Linked DNA regions of Homo sapiens. The protein of the gene in region 1 purifies or fractionates together with the protein of each later gene. This does not show direct contact. Each region holds a gene or a part of one and is shown on either strand. Other genes may lie near its edges.

Region 1 (3,500 bases):
AAGGCACATGGAAAGGGCTCAGTAAATGGTAGAAATTACTGTTATTACATTTAGAGCTCATAGATGCAAACTTTGGGATGAGATAGGGAAAGGAACCAAGAAGATAATAAACCATTTTGTTGGTTTCTAATGGCATGGGCAGACTGTGTGGAGATACTAAAGCCCTGTGTTATTCTTTCATGACACTTTCTGCAAAATGTGATCTATCTTCCTGTACTGAGACATTAATTGAAAAATTTCTGAAGAACAAGAGTCTTATTTCATGTAGTTATTTGAGCACTATAAAATTGTGTCAAGGAGAATTTCTGTGATCTTGATGACTGTATTTTAGTATGATATTTGAAGAGCACGGGCTGGCACTATTTTTTCTTTTTTCATTTCACTACTCTCTGCTTCTAAGGAGTAGGGTATGAGTTTTTTAAAAAATAAAATTTGAAATTAAAACTTATCTGTCTTCTTATGGCCTCTTTTTTCTAAAAGTTTTTGTTTTTCAAGATTCCATAGAAATTGAGGATTTATAAACTTCCTTATATTTGGAAGAAAAAGCTATGGAACCTTAACATAGTACGTAGTAGTATGTAGTAGAAAACTGTTTATAAACTTGATTCTAACTATCATTTGCTTACAGAAATTAGTAACTGTTACAAAGATTATATTGTAAATAGAGATGAGGTTGAGTATCCCATTTCCCAAATGCTTGGGACCAGAAGTGTTTTGGATTTTGGAATTTTTTGGATTTTGGAATATTTGCATTATACTTAGTTATTGAACATCTGAAATTGAAAATGCTCTAGTGATCATTTCCTTTGAACATCATGTCATGTTAGCACTCAGAAAGTTTCAGATTTTGGAGCATTTCAGATTAGATTTTCAGATTTGGGATGTGTAACCTATAGGTAATCATGTTGTGTATTTAGTCTGAGTCATTCTTCCATCGTGTACTTGTTGTATTCCTTCCACTCAGTCCAGCACTGTACACATTTAACAGTTACTTCCTTGCCTGAAAAAGCTTCACTACTTTAAATTTATTTTCTCTTTTAAAAATAGTATTATTTGACATATAAATGAAGATATGTAATATCCTTCACAATATTTTATCTTTGGGTTTCTCTTTTTTTGTTGTTGTTGTTTTGTTTGTGTTTTGTTTTGTTTTGAGATGGAGTCCCTCTCTGTCGCCCAGGCTGCAGTGCTGTGGCGCAATCTCGGCTCACTGCAACCTCCGCCTCCCAGGTTCAAGCAATTCTCCTGCCTCAGCCTCCGGAGTAGTTGGGATTACAGGCACGCACCACCGTGCCGGGCTAATTTTTTGTATTTTTAGTAGAGACGGGGTTTCACCATGTTTGCCAGGGTGGTCTTTCCTGACCTCAGGTGATCCGCCTGCCTTGGCCTCCCAAAGTGTTGGGATTAGAGGCATGAGCCACTGCCCCTCACCCCCTGCTGGATTTCTCTTGTTTTTAACAGAAAAAAAAGAATGACATAAGATTATGAATTGAATTGCATTTCTAGAAAGCTATTTTATCTATTAAACCAGTTGAAACTAAACTCTTGGCTGTGTGCTGGATGAAAGTAGTTTTTATATGACAACTGATGGCTGTGTGCCTTTTAAAAAATAGTAAAATATATAATCTTTGTATTAAAAAGTATGGAAACATATACATTTAGCAGATAATAAAGTGAATTATTATTAACAACTGTCAGTGTCAAGGAATTCTGCTAACATCCGAGAATCCCTCTTGCCTCCTTTCTGTATCTAATATCTTCTCTCTCCCTAAAGGAAACCACTATCCTATCTTTAAGTTATTCATTTATTTGCTTTTCTTAATCATTTACTATCTAGGATTATATCCCTAAATGTTATAAATTTAGTTTTGTATGCACTTGAACTTTATATGAATGGAATCATATTGAACATATTCTTTTGTGTCTTGCCTCTTTCAAAGTCAGTATTGTGTTTGTGAGGTTCATCTTTATCACATAGAGCTGTAGTTCTTTTTCGTTGTAGCATTGTATTCTATTATATGATGATATCACCAATTATTTACTATTGTACAATTAATGGATATATTGGTTGCTTCCAGTTTTTGGCTCTTACACAAAACGGTAGTTGCACATATACATGAGTTTCACTAAGAGTTAATCCAGGAATGGAATTGCTAGGTTATAGGGTAGTGTATCTTTAATTTTACCAGATGATGCCAAACTAATTATACAAGTTTACATTCCCACCAGCAGTTGAAGAATTTCCTTGCCCTGCCAGGCGCGGTGGCTCATGCCTGTATTCCCAGCACTTTGGGAGGCCGAGGCGGGCGGATCACGAAGTCAGGAGATCGAGACCATCCTGGCTAACACGGTGAAACCCCGTCTCTACTAAAAATACAAAAAATTAGCCGGGCGTGGTGGCAGGAGCCTGTAGTCCCAGCTACTCGGGAGGCTGAGGCAGGAGAATGGCGTGAACCCGGGAGGAGGAGCTTGCAGTGAGCCGGGATCGCACCACTGCACTCCAGCCTGGGCGAAAGAGCAAGACTCCGTCTCAAAAAAAAAAAAAAATTTCCTTGCTCTGCATCTTTGCTAACATTTAATATTGTCAGAATTTTAAAGTTTTGACAGGCTGATAATGTGTTACATTTCTCATTGTGCATTTAATTCACCTTTCACAGATTACTAAAAGTAATTCTTTTAATATGTTTTTGGTAATTTGAATTTCTTCTTTTGTGTTCAAGTCTCTTATCCATTTTTCTCTTGAAGTCTTTGTTTGTATGTTGATTGTGTGTGTGTACAATATATGTGTTTTGAATTTTAACCATTTGCTGGTGATAGTTATTGCTAATATAGTCTCATTCTGAGACCTGTCTTTTCATTCTCACTGTAGTGTCTTTTTATGAATTCTTTAACATGGTCCAATTTGTTAGTTTTTTCCTTTACAGTTGATGCTTTTTGTGTTATGTTTAAGACATTTCTTCCTAATGTGTGATCATGAAGATAATCTTCTATATTATCTTCTAAAAGCTTTATGATTTTGCTTTTCTTTAACAATTAGATCTATAATCTACCTAGAATAGATGTTTGTAAATGGTATGAGGTAGGGGTCCAGTTTCATTTTTTTCCCCATATGGATACACAATTGTCCCAGAACTATTTGCTGGGAAGAAAAATAATTCCCCACTGCTCTGCAGTGCCCTGTTATGTAGCATGTGTCTGTTTCTGCATTCTCCGTTCTCTTCATTGATCTATTTGTCTATTCCTATACCAGTATCCCACTGTCTTAATTAGGAAAGAATTAAAATAAATTTCTGCTGCTTCTTCAACATAGTTTAGTAGTATTGTTGGCCCTTAGGGCTTCTATGTACATTTTCCAGTTAGCCTGGTTGAGTGCCACAAAAAATCTGTGTTTTTTTGGAGAGATTTCATTGAATTTATAAATCAGTTTTGGAAAAATTAACCTCTCTTTGATATTGAGTCTTCCCACCTGTGCATGTTTTATCTCTGTTTAGGTCTTTTTT
Region 2 (2,699 bases), on another chromosome or scaffold:
TCTGCCATTGAACACAAAAGCAGCCTTAAGCATGACAAAAACAAATGAGCATCACTGTTTCAATAAAATTTTATTTATAAAACAGGCATGGGCCAATCCTTGAGCTCAAACTTCCTAAGTTTACATTTTGCATCTTATAGAAAAAAAGCGACAATTTGAAATGAAAAGGAAGCTTCACTACAATGAAGGACTCAATATCAAACTAGCCAGACAATTAATTTCAAAAGACCTACATGATGATGATGAAGATGAAGAAATGTTAGAGACTGCAGATGGAGAAAGCATGAATACGGAAGAATCAAATCAAGGTTAGATGTTTGGAAAATGTCACTGAGACTTTTGTAATGGTCTATGCCTAAGATAATGTACTTTATTTTGCTTTAAACTTGTGAAAAAACAGAAAATTTTGCTGAGATTCGCTTTATTATACCAAATGTTTCTAAAGTTTTAACCCGCATGGCCAATTTCAGAATAATAAAGTTTTTATACCTAGAGTTGATTTGATTTTAGACCATATGTTTTATTATATGGCTTTCTTATGGTTTACTTGCCTTTAGGCAAGGATGTTTGTCTTCATATTAAGCTATATTTTGTTTTGAATATTTTAGGTCATGTTGTATTTGTCATAACGATCTAAAATTTAAAATTTTTAAATGAAACTTTTTTTTTTTTTTTGAGACAGAGTCTCGCTCTGTCACCCAGGCTGGAGTGCAGTGGCGTGATCTCGGCTCACTGCAAGCTCCGCCTCCTGGGTTCCCGCCATTCTCCTGCCTCAGCCTCCCGAGTAGCTGGGATTACAGGCGCCTGCCACCACGCCTGGCTGATTTTTTGTATTTTTAGTAGAGATGGGGTTTCACCATGTTAGCCAGGATGGTCCCAATCTCCTGACCTTGTGATCCGCCCGCCTCGGCCTCCCAAAGTGCTGGGATTACAGGCATGAGCCACCGCGCCCAGCCTGAAACATGTTTTTAGTATGGAAGATTTGGTTTTACATCCCGTTAGATACAAAGTATGTCATATCTTTCCAATACGGATTCTTTTGACTGTTGGATTGACAAGTTATTTAACTGTTTTTGTTTTTATTTTTTTTTTAAGTCTTAGACACCCAGCCCCTGCAGCCTAGCAACTCCTGATCTGTCATAGGAAATAGGTTTTATTTATTTTTTATGAACTGTTACTCTGGTATTTAATGAAGTGAATCTTCTGCATCACTAATGGAGATTTTTTGTGCCCACCACCTACTCCTTGTACTTACAAACTTCATACTTTTCAGTGGAGGCGTAACTGATGTTATTTGTGGTGCCCAGAATGGTTAAGTCTTAGGAAATTAAATAATTATTGTATTACCATTTTGGTAAGCATAGTATTAAATATGAATAATTCTATGATACAGCCTGATGAGTTGCTGTCTCATAGTGTCAGGATTACAGTACTTTTTGTTATTCCGTAATATGCTTCAACCTTTTAGTCTATTTCATATAGCCTTTCATTTCCATTATATATCCCATAGTCTGTTTAACTTATATTTAACTTGAGCAAACTTCATCTTACATAGTAGCTGTGGCATGTTTTTATTATCCATTTTTATTTTTATTTTATTTTTTGTTATAGAGGCAGCGTTTTTTGTTTGTTTGTTTTAACGCCATTTCTTTTGAAAAATAACTATGGCATTTTGTCCGTCTCTGCTTATAAGATATTACATTTCACATATTTAGTACATAAATATATTTTTTGTTTAAGTTTAATGGAGGATTAAAATTTTGTATTAGGTCAGTGCCTGATTTTTCTTCACTGGAGATGAAGTACACCTTGCAAAGGAGTATATCCTGCTTAGCATTATAAAACCCACAAGAATAGGATAAGACTTAGGGAAATAAGTACCTTATTTACCCCCTACCCTTTTTGGGCCCTTAACATTTTACCAGCTTTTCAGATCTCTAAGTTCTATAGAACCCATTAGTTTTGGGACAGTGCCAGTCTCCTCCCTTCCCCCTTTCCTCCCCCATTCACACAATTCATTGGAGAAAATGACATGTTTGGACTCTTAGGTGATATTTTATAGCTTTCAGGTAATAAATATGTATCTTTTTATAGCTCTGGATATTGGAGTTGTCGTAAACTCTTACCTTTCCACCTGTGACTTACAGAAATGTTCAATCTGAAACCTGTTTGTTTTATCAGCAAGTAGACACTTCTGTTCTTTAGACTATTTAGGGGAGTGTATAGATTCTTCAATTTCAGTCTAAATCAGCCTACATGAAATATACCTTATTTGTTTTTAAAATTTTTATATTTGCTTGTCATGCATGCTAATAGAAGGGAACTTTAGCCAGGGTTGACAACATATAACAAATTATGTTGACTTTTTCTTTTATCTTTGCAGGATCTACTCCAAGTGACCAACAGCAAAACAAATTACGAAGTTCATAGACGAGATTTGTTCAACACTGCAATTGTTTGTTAGATGTAAACCCTGTGACTATAGTACGTTGCTTCTTGTTCTTCACAATTCATGACTTAAGTACCAAAATGCATACCAGTTATTATATATTGCCAAGAATTAAATGATAAACTTAGAGACTGATTAGACTGAAAATGCCTAATCGATATATATATTCTTGTGCCTAGTACTTTACCACAAATACAGTGTAATATCATCAGTCCAAAACTGCATTACTTTTGTAAAAACACTGGTTAAT
Region 3 (3,500 bases), on another chromosome or scaffold:
GCCAGTTCCTCTTCTTTGCCTCTTCACATCTAACATTCAATTTCAGCAAAAAGTGGATGACTGTGAGCGGTGCCGGGAATTTTTCAACAAAGAAGGGCGTGTAAAAGGCATAAGCTCAACCAAGGAGGTTTTAGATGAGGACACGGATGAAGAGAAAGAGACGCTCAAGAACCAGCTGAGAGAAATGGAGCTAGAACTGGCACAGACCAAACTCCAGCTGGTGGAGGCCGAGTGTAAGATACAGGTAACAGCAGCAGAGCTCAGACATGTGCCTGCGGGCTGGGTTTCCTGATGTGCACTAGAGACCCCAGAAATTATCTTTATGGTTTGGGGTTTTTCCACACCTTTTAAACTTTGGTCACAGTTGTCATGAGAAGAAATATAGGACTTGTTACTGGCCAGTGGATGTCTCATCAGTATTTGGCCTGTCTTGAGGATTTCCGCTGTCATATTGAGAATAATACACAAAAGCTTGGAATCTTTTGATGGGATGAGAAGACAGTGCTTTAGAAACACAGCTCTACCACTGAACTGTTTGACCTTGGGTTAGTAACCTCCCTACATCTCAGGTTCCTTATCTACAAATGGAAATGATGAGAGTCCCTATCTGATAGGTTGGTTTGAGGACTAAGTAAGATAGTGTGCACAAATGGCTTGGCAGAATGTCGGGGGCTTTATAAATGCAAGCTTTTGTTCTTCCAGTTCCCACCACTTAACTAGCTTTGTGACTGTTAATATACTACCTATCTGAGCCTCCTTTCCTGATAAAGAAGTTAGGGCTTGTTTTGGTCATCTTAATACACATTGCTAGGTCCACCAGCACCACTAAACCCTAAGCACTGTTTATGGAGGGAACAAGTTCAGGATAAAAGCTTTAGGGCTGATTCTCCCTCATGGCACACATTCACTGGGCATCTGCTCTTTGGCAGGCCCTGTTATAGGTCTGGGACTGCAAAGCTAAGGCCTGGTAGTGTGACTACCCGGAATAATCAGGAAAGGCATCACCAAGGCAGCAGTAGCTGTGCTGTGATCAAAGAATGCACAGGGCTTGTAGCTACAGGAGAGAGAGAACAGTGGCAATTCCAGGCAGAGGGAGTGGCATGTTCAGCAGCACAAGGAGGAGAGTGGCTGCCCAGGAAGGACCCTCAGGAGTTCTTTCCTTGCAGTAGGGGATGGAGGTGGTGCTAAGGCTGGAAGAGAGTGTGTGGATCCAGATTGCGAAGCATTTCAAATGCCATGCTAGGGAGTTTAAAGATTTTTGCCAAAATGAAATGATGTCACCAGAAATAGAGCATTACCTGTCTGCCTGGTGTGCATTAGGTGGACAGAAGAGGGAGACATAGCAAGTAGAAGACTGTTTTAATAAATAGACCAGGCAAGAAATTAGATCTTAACTAAAAGCTCCCAAATCTTTAGGCATTTCAGGCATTTCTATGCCAGTTGGAGACTGGGGGAATTCCCCGAGGCCTCTCCAGAGTAAATAGACTGCATTCTTGTCTTGGTTCTCCTCTGGGGAGCCAGTGTCATTGACACCAAGCCCAGCATCCTCATGCACACTGTTCCTCTTGCAGGACTTGGAACACCATTTAGGGCTTGCCCTCAATGAGGTGCAGGCAGCCAAGAAGACGTGGTTTAACCGAACACTGAGCTCCATAAAGACAGCAACCGGGGTTCAAGGGAAAGAGACTTGCTGAGAGCAGCTGCCGCCTCCCGACACCTTCAGAAAACACGACACCTTTTGTTGCCTTCTTTGGCCAGATGTGTGATTCTGTGACTTGTCCCAGGACCAGAATGTACCTAAGTCAGATCCATAGACGCATGTTGGTAGGTCACTGGACCAGAGCTTGTGAAGCAGGCAACCTCTGGGGTAAGACTACTGATACTAACAGGCCTGCTAGCTCAGCCGACGCTCTGGACACTCTAGAAATCACTCCTCAGTGTGACCTCCCAGGCCTCTTCCCCGTGTACGTCAACACCTCACCCAGCCTAAAGGCTGAGTTTACATGATCAGAGTTAGGGGATCCTTCAGTCTGTTGATTTTTTTTCTAAACCTTTTTTTTTTAATATACATATATATATATATATATATATATATATATATATATATATATATATATAGTGGGGGTGGGGCAAGGGATCAGAAATTCAAATAATTCTTTTCTGCTTCAATGCCAGCAGAAGGTCCCCCAGGTAGACATGGAGAAGCACTTTGTTTTAAATAGGAGGGTTTCATAGTTGCATCTGAAGCCACCTGGTTCTGTTAAACTGTATGGTGCAGGTTTTGGGTTTGGCATTATTCATGTTTCTGATCAATTCTATGCAACTCTCATAGTTCCTGTTACTTTTTAGCATTAGCTGCCAAATGACTTCAAAAGGCTGGGGTGGGTGACTTGACTGTGAGACTGGATTATAACATGGACAAATCTTATTTTGCTTAATGTGTTTGTGTGTGTGTGTGTGTGTGTGTGTGTGTGTGTATGTATATATATATATAAATATCTTTCCCAATATGCCCCGTTGACAGTGTTTAAATTCCAGACTAGGACTGCTGATCTGCACAATTTAATTATGTGGTTATTCGAGCACTTAATTTCACTCAAGGTTCATTGGGCTCTGCTCTCCTCCCTGCCATTACGGGAGCTGTGGACAGAGCTCCCTCACTTCAAGATTCCTAGTGTTTTTGCACAACAGGTTGTCCAAGTGAGAAAGACTGAGTTGCGTGTCTGTAAATGTCTGCGCAGGGTGCACATGCTGCGAGGTCTCCATCCTCCGGGCCTGTCCCTCCCAGATGGGCTGGGCCTTTGGGCCCTCCTCAGAGTATGCCTGGGTACAAACCTCACTGTTCAGATGGGCTGTAAGTTCTCACTTCAAAGCTATGGAATGGATTTTAGCACCTTTAAAAAAAAAAAAAACTTTGACTTTTAATTTATATAGTGATATGCTGACAGGCTGACACGCAGATGGTTTTGTCCTCTTTTCTGCGTTCAGTGTTGAGGCGGCTGCTTACAAGAGGCACTGGTTTTGTATATAAAGACACTCGGGTTGTTTTGTAGCTCTTTTTCTTATTGGCTGTACTAACGCTTGCTGAGGTTATCTGTAATAAGGGAGGTAACAAGTGGCAACCCCCTCCCCACCAACCATCCCCTTTGCTGCTTTCTGTGTCTTTCTTGTTCAGTTACCAAAATAGCTGTAAGCCTATCTAATGCTAGGTGTGTGGACATTGTGCTAAGGTAGTTTCAGTGTGTCAACTTTATGAATTGAAATATAAACCAGTAAAATTGTATTACTGTTTCTTTTGTTGGTTTTATTTTAACAGCATATTGATTAAATATTTTGGTACAAACAAACAGCATTGCTTTGTAAAAACCAGTTTTGTCATCACCTACTCCTGTCGCCTCCCCTTCTTCCCTCATCCCCTGCGCACAGAAGCAGTCAGAGAAGACCACTGTGTGTGCTGTAAGAGAGGCATGTGTGAGCGCGAGGCAGCCCCTCACCCACCT
Region 4 (4,063 bases), on another chromosome or scaffold:
AGAGGAGTTTGTGAACAGGCAGCAGATGCACCTCATTGTCCAGATGTAGTGTTCTGGAAAGTTGCATTTCCTTGACACTATCTGGGAGGTCTGACAGTTTATCTGCTGAGAAAGGAACTCAGGTAAAATGCACGCAAGTTTCTCAAGTTTCACTTCGAAGGGAAAATTTGGCCGGTTTCGGTCTTCCCTTTCTATTTATCAATTCCTCAATCATGCGGAATCTGGTAGTTGATCTTTCTGGCTGCTTCACGTGAAGGAAGGGCATCTTGGGATGATATGGAATGAAAATATCGCACCTGTAATTGCAAGTACTTACGAGTACCTGGTTGGCATCCAGCTTGTTGGAGCACCATGATTTGGGTACTTTCATCAACATTTTAAACCACATTGAATTAGGATAATTAATAACATGGATAAGAAGGTTTCTTTGTAGGTTGTAATAACCCAGTTAAGAGTTTGTACCATTCGGCCGGGCGCAGTGGCTCACGCCTGTAATCCTAGCACTTTGGGAGGCCTAGGTGAGCGGATCACGAGGTCAGGAGATGGAGACCATCTTTGCTAACACGGTGAAATCCCATCTCTACTAAAAATACAAGAAGATTAGCCGGGCATGGTGGCGGGGGCCTGTAGTCCCGGCTACTAGGGAGGCTGAGGCAGGAGAATGGCGTGAACCCGGGAGGCGGAGATTGCAGTGTCGCTCTGGCGACAGAGCGAGACTCCGTCTCAGGAAAAAAAAAAAAAGAGTTTGTACCATTTGAGGGCAAAAGCTTCAGTATGAAATTCCCGTTTCTCTCAAGTAAACCGCCTGTCCTGTGTTACTCACTTTGTTTTACCTGGAGGCAGCAAAACTGAATAGTTTTCCTGAGTGCTCATGAGTAGGAAAAAATGAAATGAAGAGTTGCCCAGAGATCGCTAGTGAGGTGCTTTGCCACTACTGCCCTGTACTTAAGTAACTGTGAGGGTTCTCTGTTTCCTGGCTTCTAAAACAAGAGGAAGAGCTGAAGACACAGTTTCATAGACTTTTCGGCTCTTTATTGTAGTCTCCCCCATTAGTACGTTGCTGAGCTTAGGGCAAGTGCTCAATAATAGCTTGCTGAATTAGTGTTGTGTTTGATCCTTTCAGATCCACGCCGCATTTTGAGCCCGACCTGGGCGGGCGGTCCAGAGACCAGTTTTCCGCCGGGGGCGGAGCTTCGGGCGGCCAGCGCGCGACGGGGCAGCGGGGCGGAGCTTGCCGCCGGCGGAGGGCGGGGTCTGCGCGGGGACTTCCCCCGGGCTGAGCTGCGCAGCGGGTGCGGAGGGCGGGCGCCCGGCGTCCGGCGGCGGGTGGGGGGCTGTGAGGCTGGCAGGGGTCGGCGGGCGCGTAGCCGCCGACCCTTGGTGGTCTCTTGGGCTGGGGACCCTTCCCTGGGAGTCGGCCCCGGCCCCGGCGGGGCGGGCGTTGCCGGGAGGCGGAGGGGTGCGCGGCCGCGAGTCCTGCGTGATCGCGAGCATGTGTGCGTGCGCGTGTTTATCTGAGGCGCGTGCGGCGGCCACCCCAGCCTAGTCCTCTTCTTGGTGCCACTGGCTAACTAGGTTGAGAAACCGGCGCCACAGGCGGCACACCTGGCCCGGAGCTGGCCCGCTCCTCCCCGCCGAGCCGGCGCCCCAACAACGCGCCCTCTCCCAGTCCTCACAAAGGGGCCTAGTCCGGCCCCCGGCTCTGGCCGTGAGGGAGCGCTGTGGGGGCGCGCTGCCTTCTGCCTGGAAGTGTTGGGCAGGTGGTGGGAGAGCGTCAGGCTTGAACAACATGATTTTAAAGCACGTGTCTGTCTGTCGTTTTTTACTTTTAGGGTTTTGGCCAAATTGGGCGAGGGCACAAAATAACCACTTACCCCTTCTCACCGAGGAAGAGCGGGAGAAAGGGTAAGTAAGGAATGGTCAGGGGTGGAAGGACCTAGGACTTTATCCTGAGAGCGAGCGAGAGAGAGAAGGGCTAGATGTCCAGAACTGCTCGTGGGGAACTTGGGCCCAGATTCTACCTTTTCATCGGGAACTGGAGGACCCACCTTCAAAGTCACAGGCTCCAGGCCCCGGACTGTTTTCAGCCTCACACAGTCTATAGAGTTTAACAGCTTGGGCATGTGGATCCCTTTTAGCCCCTTGACCCGACAGAAAACTGCACTTCCCCTTTACCTGTTTTTACCTTGGAACATTGGTCCTCTCTAGTTGTCTGTCTCCGGCCCCTATCTTATTAGCCAGCTTTGACTAATCCCTGAGACCATAGCACTAAAGAATCCAGGTCCTGTTTGATAATGAACAGTAACCCCCCTAGGGATGTTTACATTTTAAAAGGGTACTCCTGAAAAAATCCTTTAGGACCCCAAAGCATAAAGTTAGTAACAAGATTACAAGTGTTGAAGTTCTTTGGGATCTCTCAAGCTTACAGAAGAAGATGTTTTGAGGGGAGAGAGATGACCAGGCTGGGCCTTTTTCTCTGGGCTTTCACTCTTGGTACCTCCTGGCAAGCATTCCATTCACTTTTGAAAAGTTGCCAAAAAGGACACTGAAGTTCTCTGAGGCTTACTGTGATTTTCAGTGTGGTCTATTTCATTGGTTCTTCTGTGGGACTTTTCTATCACTTCTTTAATACACTGCTTCCCTCTCCCCTGTATGGTGAAATGAAACACAGCTCCTCTCACAAGGTTGGGAGCTCATTATGCATCCTATATGTCACATATAAATAACCGTTTTAAATTAGTTGAAATTCAGATTAGCTACAAGCAGGAATGTAGTAAAACTGCATTCTTGGATTCTTACACAGGAAAAGTAGAATTGCCCTCTGTGATAGGCTGCCTATTCTGATACTGGCTGCCTGTGTCCTGAACGTGCCTATTTGTTTGTGCTCAAGTGATAGGTGACCACATAATTTATGGAAAACAGGAAGTGATTGTTTATTGATAATGGGTTCCTTCATTGATTCAATAGCTAATTCTCTCTTACCATGTGCTACGCACTTTTATCAGCACTTTGATAAAAGTAGGATGGTGAGAATGATGAGATTGTATTGGAGATGGCTGTTTTGGGGTAGGCCTTTCACCAGTTTTGTGGATTTTCTCAATAGTTACATGTTAATTTACAAGACTTTCCCTGTACTACTGATCATAGTGGTTTGCAGGTCTATACAGTGTTGTGGGAGAACAGAATTATTATTCCGCCTTTCTAGTACTTTCAGTAATAAACTTACAAGGATGGCTGACCTTGATGATTTGTTTCCTATAATGAATAATGTTATAGTCATTTTCCAGTGTACGAGTATAATAATTAGATGAGGATAACTTTTGTAGTTGTTCCATAAGAAGGACCTAATATTAGGAATCATGGAGAGTGTAAAGGATGATGTACTTAGAAAAATAAATTCGAAAGTAGACCATTTTTAACTTGCATGGGTTTCTGTGCATTTAGCCTCATTTAAAAGATCTAAGCTAGAATAGTTCTTTGTCTTTTTCTGGTTATAAGAGTAATAAAAAGTCAAAAAAAAGTTATTTAGAATTAAATCTGGGAGGGTATAAAAGGCAATAAGTGAGTTTCCTATGAGTCCACTTTCAGATGACCACTTAACAATTTGATACTTGTTTCTTCAACTTTTTGTTCCATATATACACATACTAAATATGCAGCTTAAGTATATGTTAAACATGTATACATCTTAACTGCGTATTATATATGGAACATATGTGGAACATAATACATGTTTTATATATATATATTTCACTGTTATTTGATAAAATTGTAAATTTCTTTCTTTTTCTCCTTCTTCTTGGCTATTTACCACCCCTCCTCACTCCACCCCACAACTTCATGTAGAAGTAGCATGACTTTTACAGTCTTTTGGACATGAGCTTGATTTCTGGCTCTTATTTTATTAGCTGTGTCACTTTGGGCCATTAAAATTTCTCTGCTGCTTGATTTCTTATCCATCAAAACAGAACAAAGAGTATATATAAAAGAATGTGTGAAAAAACAGTGCCTGGCATAGAAGTACTTACTTTTAAATTTCCCTCCCTGTTTTTCTATGTGGTCA

What was found. Proteins that work in one complex are often made in the same cells at the same time.
Region 2: the proteins of SLK (region 1) and PPP1R2 fractionate together in Homo sapiens (co-fractionation; one large-scale study listed by BioGRID). This does not show direct contact.
Region 3: the proteins of SLK (region 1) and RABGAP1 fractionate together in Homo sapiens (co-fractionation; one large-scale study listed by BioGRID). This does not show direct contact.
Region 4: the proteins of SLK (region 1) and IMMP2L purify together in Homo sapiens (co-immunoprecipitation; one large-scale study listed by IntAct). This does not show direct contact.

The regions. Positions count from the first base shown.
Region 1 is NC_000010.11:103,970,140-103,973,639, forward strand, and holds part of SLK (STE20-like serine/threonine-protein kinase), read left to right. Parts: intron 1-3,500. UniProt on the Homo sapiens protein: Mediates apoptosis and actin stress fiber dissolution.
Region 2 is NC_000003.12:195,516,627-195,519,325, reverse strand, and holds part of PPP1R2 (protein phosphatase inhibitor 2), read left to right. Parts: intron 1-140; coding exon 141-308; intron 309-2,383; coding exon 2,384-2,430; 3' UTR 2,431-2,699. UniProt on the Homo sapiens protein: Inhibitor of protein-phosphatase 1.
Region 3 is NC_000009.12:123,101,520-123,105,019, forward strand, and holds the end of RABGAP1 (rab GTPase-activating protein 1), read left to right. Parts: intron 1-46; coding exon 47-244; intron 245-1,571; coding exon 1,572-1,694; 3' UTR 1,695-3,347; downstream 3,348-3,500. UniProt on the Homo sapiens protein: May act as a GTPase-activating protein of RAB6A. May play a role in microtubule nucleation by centrosome. May participate in a RAB6A-mediated pathway involved in the metaphase-anaphase transition.
Region 4 is NC_000007.14:111,559,693-111,563,755, reverse strand, and holds the start of IMMP2L (mitochondrial inner membrane protease subunit 2), read left to right. Parts: upstream 1-1,263; 5' UTR 1,264-1,905; intron 1,906-4,063. UniProt on the Homo sapiens protein: Catalyzes the removal of transit peptides required for the targeting of proteins from the mitochondrial matrix, across the inner membrane, into the inter-membrane space. Known to process the nuclear encoded protein DIABLO.